Regions from separate parts of the Homo sapiens genome. Here region 2 is linked to region 1. The links come from fine-mapping of genetic effects on gene expression. A gene starts in region 1. The other region holds a variant in brackets. All regions are shown on one strand. Distances are from middle to middle. Region 1 holds the start of ANKRD44-AS1 (ANKRD44 antisense RNA 1). Region 2 overlaps ANKRD44 (ankyrin repeat domain 44).

The links. PIP is the estimated chance that this variant, and not a neighbour inherited with it, causes the effect.
Region 2: its variant is the best candidate, but not a certain one, in a credible set for the expression of ANKRD44-AS1 in T cells (GENCORD, PIP 0.51).

Annotation. Positions count from the first base shown.
Region 1 is chr2:197,195,861-197,200,257 of GRCh38, reverse strand. It overlaps ANKRD44-AS1 (ANKRD44 antisense RNA 1), which reads right to left and starts at 2,267. Exons shown (of 2, transcript NR_135584.1): 1 at 2,169-2,267; 2 at 985-1,340. All of the region lies in intron 1 of ANKRD44 (ankyrin repeat domain 44), which reads left to right. RefSeq lists an enhancer at 1,152-1,221.
Region 2 is chr2:197,303,304-197,307,700 of GRCh38, reverse strand. All of the region lies in intron 1 of ANKRD44 (ankyrin repeat domain 44), which reads left to right. Among named protein-coding and RNA genes, the nearest start is that of ANKRD44-IT1, 3.0 kb to the right of the region's middle. RefSeq lists enhancers at 142-221, 262-311, 2,777-2,906. The variant A/G (reference allele first, on the strand shown) is at 2,676.

The sequences.
Region 1 (4,397 bases):
TCAAGAAGGCTCCTAGAATATTATGGCTAAAGGCACCTCCAGATTACCTCTCCAATCTGTCATTGTGCAGAAGGACAACTTGGCATCCATTTGCATGAGGTCTGTAGAACATGGTTCAGTACTGTCTTACACAGTTTAAGTGTTTTGTGTGGGTTAGGCTTATTTCCCCAACTATATTTGGCAGTCTTTTAGGAAAGGACTATGTCACACATTTCTTTTGTATATTTCATAAAAATAGCATATTGTAGGTACTCAGAAAATGCTTTTGGCTCTGGTAGCACTTCTCTGTGCAATGTGGATAAGCACTGATAGAGGCTTGTTTGTTGTGGTACAAACTAGAAACAACCCAAATGCCCATTCGAAGGGGAATAATTGAATATGTTATGGCATATCCATACAATGGAATAGTATTATATATAGTTATTAAGAGAAATGATTTAATCCTGTAGCTATCGACCTGGGGGATGTCCTCAGTACATCATTATTTTTGCAAATTGTAAGAGAGGGAAATAAGCCAGGCATGGTGGTATGCATCTGTAATCCAGACTACTTGGATTACAGATACTTGGGTGGGAGGATCGCTTGAACCCAAGAATTTGAGACCACCCTGGACAATATAGCAAGACCCCCATCTCAAAAAAAGTGTGTGTGTGGGAAATAGTAAAATCCCATTTTCTGATAATAAATAACGATAATCTCATATATCTGTATCTGTACCTACCAACAAGAACACGGGCTGTTCACATTTGTGGTAGGAAAGGTTATTAAGTTTTTTCTTTATCTGTTTTTGTATTGTTGCAACAGGAAACCTACTAAGATTAAAATCCAGCAAACATAAGACAAAGATAAAATGCACAGGGGTTTTGATGCATTAGGTGTTTCCCATAGTACTTCCTATTTTTCAAACTTCGTGTGATTAAAAAAGTAAGTTTTATCCCTGACTAAATTTCAGTGTGGAAATAAAGAAATAAAGATAGCATGTACTTGGCTTAGGTATACTTGTTTTGTTCTTTCAGCTCGTTACGTAAAGATACATTTTTTTTTCTTTCTCATGACATGAAGATAAGCTTTCTTCTTACCAAAACCTAAACTGTGAAGGCAGCACCCAAGCCAAAAGCCTCGAGGCTCTGGTTTCTGTGGTGGGATGGGGAGAGAAGTAGGTTGCACAGATGTAGGATGCCAGCTGACTTCAGAACTTCCGGTCTCAGAGCTAACCAGGCTCGGCAAGCCACAAGAGAGAAGGAGCTTGCATAGGTGGAAGAGCAAAGAAAGCCAGTGCTGCAGAACTTCCGGTGCTCCTCCGCCGATGTCGGGCTGGCGCTGCTCCCGAGCCCTGTGTCCTGTGGAAGAAGTTGGTGAGAATCGTTTTGAATGTAGGCAGCCACTCCTGAGGAGGCTAGCCCTTGCTACATTAAAGGTGGAGCTAGATTTACATTTTATTTTATTTTATTTTATTTTTTATTTTTCGAGATGGAGTCTTGCTGTCGCCCAGGCTGGAGTGCAGTAGCACGATTTCAGCTCACTGCAACCTCCACCTCCCGGGCTCAAGCGATTCACCTGCTTCAGCCTCCCGAGTAGCTGGGATTACAGGGGCACGCCACCATGCCTGGCTAATTTTTTGTATTTTTAGTAGAGACGGGGTTTCACCATGTTGGCCAGGCTGGTCTCAAACTCCTGGCCTCAGGTGATCCACCTGCCTCGGCCTCCCAAAGTGCTGGGATTACAGACGTGAGCCACCATGCCCGGTCAAATTTACCTTTTAGATTCACATATTACCACCAGAAGAATGCTTCCTCTGACAACTGAGCGGTACTCCATCCCCAGAGCCCTTTGTGCAGACTATTATTGCAGTTTCCTAACTTGTTATGACACTCCAGCCTTTTCCTCCAGGTCATCATACAATCCATTTTTAGAGTGATTGTTCTAAAGCACAAATCTTAGGTCACTCCCCTGCTCAAAAACCACCCACTGCTCCCCCAGTTCCACAGAAGAGAGCTCAAATTTCTTAGCTTGGTATTCAAGACCTTCCATGATAGGATCCCTGTCTACTACTCAGCTTACCTCACTTCTCCCCTCCTCCAGCCAAATGAAACTGTTCCCTGTGTATGTTCAGGCTCCCTAGCTTCTGCTCACAGCCTTCTGAATATGAAGAAGGGAAAGTCCCTTACCATTCCATCCGTCTCTACCTGTTTAAATCCTCCCCAGTCTTCAATATTCATTTCAGAGGCTGCGTCTTTCAGGAGGCCAGGTACAATTTCTCTCCCTTCTCCATGCACTTCTCCTGCGGCCTGTGCCTTACATTCTAGCTGTGCGTATTTGTATACTTCCTGTTACACCTTGGTAACCTCATCAAGGGAGAGACTGACTCTGACATTCCAGTGTCTGAATTTCTTTCTTTCTTTTTCTTTTTCTGTGTTTCTTTCTTTCTTTTTTTTTTTTTTTTTTTTTGAGACAGGATTTCACTCTGTCACCCAGGCTGGAGTGCAATGGTGTGAGCATGGCTCACTGCAGCCTCAATTTCCTGGGCTCAGTTGGTTCTCCCACCTCAGCCTCCCGAGTCGCTGGGACTACAGGTGTGCGCCACCGTGCCCAGCTAATTTTTGCATTTTTAGTGGAGATGTGGTTTCACCATGTGTCTAGGCTGGTCTGGAACTCCTGGATTCAAGTGATCCGCCTGCCTTGGTCTCCCAAAGTGTTGGGATTACAAGCATGAGCTACTGCGCCCGGCCTCCAGTGTCTGAATTTCTTATGCTCAGTAAATGTCTTATGCTTAATACATCTTTGTTGAATTGAATGTGGTTATCTGAAATGTACCAAATTAAGTTTTAGAAAACATATCTTTTATCCCCTGTTGGAGGGGGTAGTGTGTAAAGAAATAAAGGAGCTACGCACTGGGTTGGTGTCTGTGAAAGGAAATATGATATGACTTCTTTTTTTTTGCAGAATTTCCCATTTTCCCATTTTATATTATCGAATGTTTTCCAGTCTCTTAGGCTCCTCTCTCTTCCTGCTGCCTTATCCTTTCCCTTTGACATCTGTCACTGGATGTCCTTACCATGATTTTGGATGGGGAAATGAGAAGATGCTTCCTGAAAGACTACACTGAGGGGATTCTCTAATAGATTTTCATTCCATGTGACTTTTTCTGGCTGGGGAGGGAGTAGGGGACCTTCCAGTCATCTCAGGCAGAAACTAATTCAGGTCCTGATCAACCCACTGCCTTAAATTTTAGAATGGTTGCTATAACAATTTTAGAATGGTTGCTATAACAAGATGCCTTAGGAAAAAAAAAATTGACAATGGCCAGAACAGGAAGGTGACTCCGTTTTACACATGTCCCTAGTCCCTCACCTGTGGAGAGGTGGTGAGAGTTTAACTGCTTGCTGTCTTTCCAAGAATGCACGTGGAATTCAAAGAAAAGAACAGTAGAAGGGAAGGAGAGGGTTTAAAGGAAAATTGTCATGGGCTTTGGAAAGACCTGATTGTGTAAAAATTGCTTGCTGGTGTTTGGAAAGAACCCAGGTGCTAACAGATTTTAGACAAACCCAATCTGGAGTTGCCTAAATCATGAATGATTTAATGTGACTGAGTTAATCCATATATCTTGTATACAGTAGTTCCAGCCTCCTCAAATGTAGCAGGAGATTGCCACCTTTCTGAGAGTACCTTTCATTTCTACATGCTGATTTTGTTGTTGTTTTTAAAGGACACTTGAATTGCTTTATTTAGCTTCCAATTTGTGAGATTCTCAAAAATTAAAATTACTCATGACCACAAGAAGATACTTCTGTAGTTATGGATCATTTTCTGCTATTTTTTATAAGGAATACTTTTTTATTGTTGTCTTTTTTATAAGTGATGCACATACCAGGTAGTAATAAAAAGTCATGTTTTCCAGTGCACCCTAAAACTGAACTGCTGTCTCTATTTGAACAGACAAATAAATTATACTGAATATACCTACAACCCTGAAAATCATCTTCTGGCCATTTTTCTTTTTTCCCCACAAAGATCACTAAAGTGGTTTATATTGATTAACATTATTAAATCCACCTCTCATGTTTGCAACTACATGAATTCAATATGCAGTAAGATACAGTTATACAAAGAATGTAACCCAAGCCAAGATGAGAAATAAAACCTCTATACCAATTTTTCAAAACAGGAAACTGTTGCAGAAGTATATATAGTTGTTCTTTTTGTTTCACTAAAATTACATGGATTTAAATGTTCTGTATGAACTAACCTCCTGGATCCATTGTCCTTTTTGCCCAAATTAGCTTTCTTTAAAAGTTAACTCCCCAACACAATTTAATTATCTTAGCTAAAGTTTAGGTTTGATCTCAAGCCATTTGAAACTAGACAGAGTGAAAAAATCTGTGGGTAGTTGGCAGCAG
Region 2 (4,397 bases), 110 kb before region 1:
AGCAGACACTACTTCAGCAGTCAGTCCTGTAGTGACCTCTCAATCTTGTAAGAGAAGGAAAATGTTTTTTCCTAACTCTTTTTTTTTCAGGAGAGTAAAAAGAAAAAGGGAGAGACCAGTGTAATTTTTAGTCTTTTTTTTTTTTTTTTCACTGTAAAAAAGGAACTGGGAGCTATCACTACAAACAAACAAACTTGGCATTTAGCACTTCTGCATTTGTAACTTTTGTAACAGTGTCCCTTCTGTTTTCCTCTTCACAGGGCACACATAATTTTTATTGCAGCCTTAGGGGGCACTAACCATCCTGGTTTGTGCAGATTGACTGGTGTCCCAGCATATGGGGCTAAAACCGGGAAAATTCCAGGCAAACTGGGAGGAACTGGTTACCCTGTGTAACATAGAACATCCTCAACTATGTCATTAATATAATAATGTAATTAGTTCCTTGTATGTGGACATTAGGAGTTTTATATTTTTTGGTAAAGTGAGATAATTTTAAGTTTGGGAAAGAAAATTTTGTTAAATACAGATCTAAGGCATTTGACTCAAAGATAGCCATGAAACCTTTTTGAAAATTGATTTGATATTGACTGTTTTAGGGTGTTCTTTATGTCATATAGTTAAAGGCACTGTAGTCATTTTAAGTGTGTGGTCGTATCTTCAGCCTGGATCTCTACCCGAAATTTATTTTCAGAGTTATGAAGCTAGGATGGTAAGTTCTGTTGCATGTTTAAAGTGTCCACTATTCTTACCTGCATTTGTTAATGATGGCAGAACACTACTTTCATCTCGGAGGCTGCCTGCAGACAAACTGTTTCAGCAGGTGGCCTTTTTGGAGCTTCCTGCCTGGAGGCCTTCTGGTTTGGTGTTCCCTTGCCAAGTCCTAGTTCACACTTGAGTCACCTACCTTCTTGCCAAAGGCAGTGGCTGGCAGCGGTGGCAGTGGCAAGAGACTAGAAATCCTGTGTAACTTTGGGAGCAGGATTTCTAGCCCATAGTGTGGGGCCTTGGGACGTGTTACATATTTTACTGGGCTGCCCTTGTTCTTCCATGGCTCCCTAGAGCACTGGTGTTAAAGCAAACAGTATGCTGTAGTCCTGTCTTCAGCATAGAAGAAGGGAAAAGAAAGGCTTTATTTAGAACCTTTTCTGGTTGTTTCAGGACCCAATCACATGGTTTTGAGAGTGCACTTGAGGCTGGTGTTTCATGGCAGAGACCTAATAATGTCACACATTTATTGTGCTCTTATTGTATACTGGGCCTTTGCAGTGAATCATGTCTTAATCCTCATAGCCACACTAGGAGGTAGGTGGTGGTGTGATTTCTATTTTATGGATGAGAAAACAGGAATAGAGAGGCTAATTGACCGGTTTAGGGTCATACGCCCAGTAAGTGATCTAGCACACTGTCCTACCCTGGCAGTCTGATTGCACAGGTGGGGCTCTGACCACAAGGCTATACTTTTCATAGTTGAAAGGGCAGTGCAGCCATGGGATTAATGGGTGTCTGATCTTGTTTACAGAGAAGCCATTGGATGAACAGCGTTCCCTGAACTCCTTCTGCCTCTTGGGCCAGACCCATTTCTGTACATAGTAAGGAGCTGCTCTGAGGCCTCTGCCCCTGCCTGGCTTATACCTGGCTTTTCCCATTAGCCTCTCCATTTCCTCACCCCGGTGAATGATGTGTTGGTAGTTCAGTGATTTTTTTCATATATATATATATATATATATATAAAACGAACTGCGGTCATTATAGGAAAAGCAGAAAGCTAGATGAGCAAACCAAAAAATTTTAAAACCATCTGAAGCCTGTATACTCAAGAGATAACTATTCTTGACATTTTGATATGTTTCCTTCTAGTCTTCTGTCTGGGTAGCCAGTTAAAATTTTTAAACTTTTCGTGTGATAATATCATTACCTTTCACTTGTGCACATAGCTGATATCTGTGTTCTCTACACCAATGACTTTTCCAAATAAACTTATTCTTCTCTTACATATATGATTGGCTCTTTAGCCAACGCCAGCACATAAGCTCTAGCTCTGGATTAATGGAACTAACTTTTTTCTTTTTCTTTTCTTTCTTTCTTTCTTTTTTAAGATTTCAACTTTTTACTTCCTCTTTTGCTGTAAACAGAGAGCAAATACGAACTCAAAAAGGCACAAATTGTTTGTACCAGAAACAGAAATGAAAGATTCTTTAAAAAGATTTGTATTTCTACAAGATAATGTGAATTTTTATAGGCTAAAGTATAGCACGAAATAATTTAAAAACAGGCAGAGCTACAGAGATCTGATAATTTTGTGATTTCCAAATTTGTTTAAGCTATGACACTCCTTTTTTCCCCCGAAGAAATTTCATATTGAAGCTCAATATATAAAAAAGATTGGCTTGGACAGTGGTCCCTGAGTCCCTCTTGAAAACTGGTTGGGTTTAGTATTATTTGAAAGCCCCTTTGTATGAGAAAACTCCTGGTGATTGGTTAAGTGTTTTTTGTTGTTGTTTTTGTTTTTTTTCCTGACACATCATGTATGAAACAACATTTATAAATGTTTGTGAATGATTAGGAACTACACAGAACTAGGATGACTATATCATTTTTATCCGTTTGAGAATCATAGGTGATACTACTCAATATGAAGCCACAAATAGACGTGAGCCAGGACTGTCCTGGGT[A/G]AACCTGGATATGTGGTCATCATATATTCACATAGACTCCATGTTTGCTCACCACAGGCTTGACAGTGACAGTAAACTAGTTTGACTAGCAGACTACTCTGTCTCTTTTGAGTCAGGTCTACAGTGGTGCAGGTATTACAAAGATTGTTTTATGACCTTGTGCAGAGTTGGGAAACAGCTTCCATGTCACACATGAGTTCTGATCGGTCCAGGACTTGCAGGTGTAATGTGATAGAAACATTCTGACTCTTGCAGTCAAGGATCCGAGAAAGTGTGATTGATTACCAGTGTTTGCTATGGGTACACGGGAAGGGAGAAGTGACATATGTTGTACATTAGCCAACCCTTGGCAAGACATGTTAACCTCTGTAGGCTTCAGGTTTCTCTTTGTAAAATGAAGAGGTTGGACTGGATGCCTTTATGGTGCCTCAGCTCTGCCCTCTCCCTTCTGTGACTTGGTGCCTGTAATGGAGACCGATGCTCTTCACATGGTTTGTGTTATAGCATTTCTTACAAATGTGCCTATGAAGGGTGTATTTGCAGATGAGCTCTAATAAGGCTTTCCAGGTAACAAAGTCAAACAGCTTCAAGTTCCAGAGAAGGATTTTAACCCATGTCAATGACTTAGGACTAATTCCTATTCTCCACCCTACTTCAATTCATAGATAATCTAAGATTACCCATTTTATTTATTCTGTATTTTTATTTTTTTGGGACAGAGTCTCGCTCTGTTTCCCAGGCTGGAGTATAGTGGTGCAATCTTGGCTCATTGCAACCCCCGCCGACCCCCTCCTGGGGTTCAAGTGATTCTTGAGCCTCAGACTCCCGGGTAGCTGGGATTACAGGCTTGCACCACTACGCCCAGCTAATTTTTGTATTTTTAGTAGAGATGAGGTTTCACCATGTCGGCCAGGCTGGTCTCAAACTCCTGGCCTCATGTGATCTGCCTGCCTCAGCCTCCCAAAGTGCTGGGATTACAGGGGTAAGCCACCACACCTGGCCTAAGATTGCCCTCTTTATAGATTACTCCTTTTTAACCTTTTAACCAATATATTATTTGGCTTTGGCTGCTTTCAGAGGTCGGGAATGCAGGTATTTGCCCTTATCAGTGTTTATGTTTGTAAATATGTTGGTAGCCTAAGAGGTTGAAATTAATGATTCATGAATCCAGCTTGTAATTATGATATTCATAATTTTTAAGGATCTTTTCACTTGCCTCCTCTTTTGAAAACTTAAAATTTATATTCTATAAAGTGAGCTAAGCAAATAAATATATAGTCCACTTTGGGCTGTTTCAGGGATTACTAAGTCGATAATTGTTTGCATTTCTTGGTTTTTGTTTGCTTAGAGTCCCCTTGCTCCCATCCTGGGGAGTCTTAAGCATCCAAGCATAGCTTTCTAGGATATCTTTTATACCAGAAGACCATTTTCCCCTAAGAAAGCTTTCAGAGCTTTTAGTAAAATTAGGGAGACTTGTGGAAACATCTGTTTGAGCCTAGACATGGAAATTAATTACAATTCTAACCTGTCTCTAAAAGTTTTGCTTTTTTTATTTAAAAAATTTTGTTTTGCTTTAGTTTGTTTTAAAAATAACACTAGATTGGGAATCAGAAGACGTGGATTCTACTCATGGTTCTTCTAACTGTTGTATGGTTTGGGGTAAGTCCTGGCCTTCGTTTCTTTGTCTGTCAAAATGGGAACAGGTAGAAAATTCTCTAAATT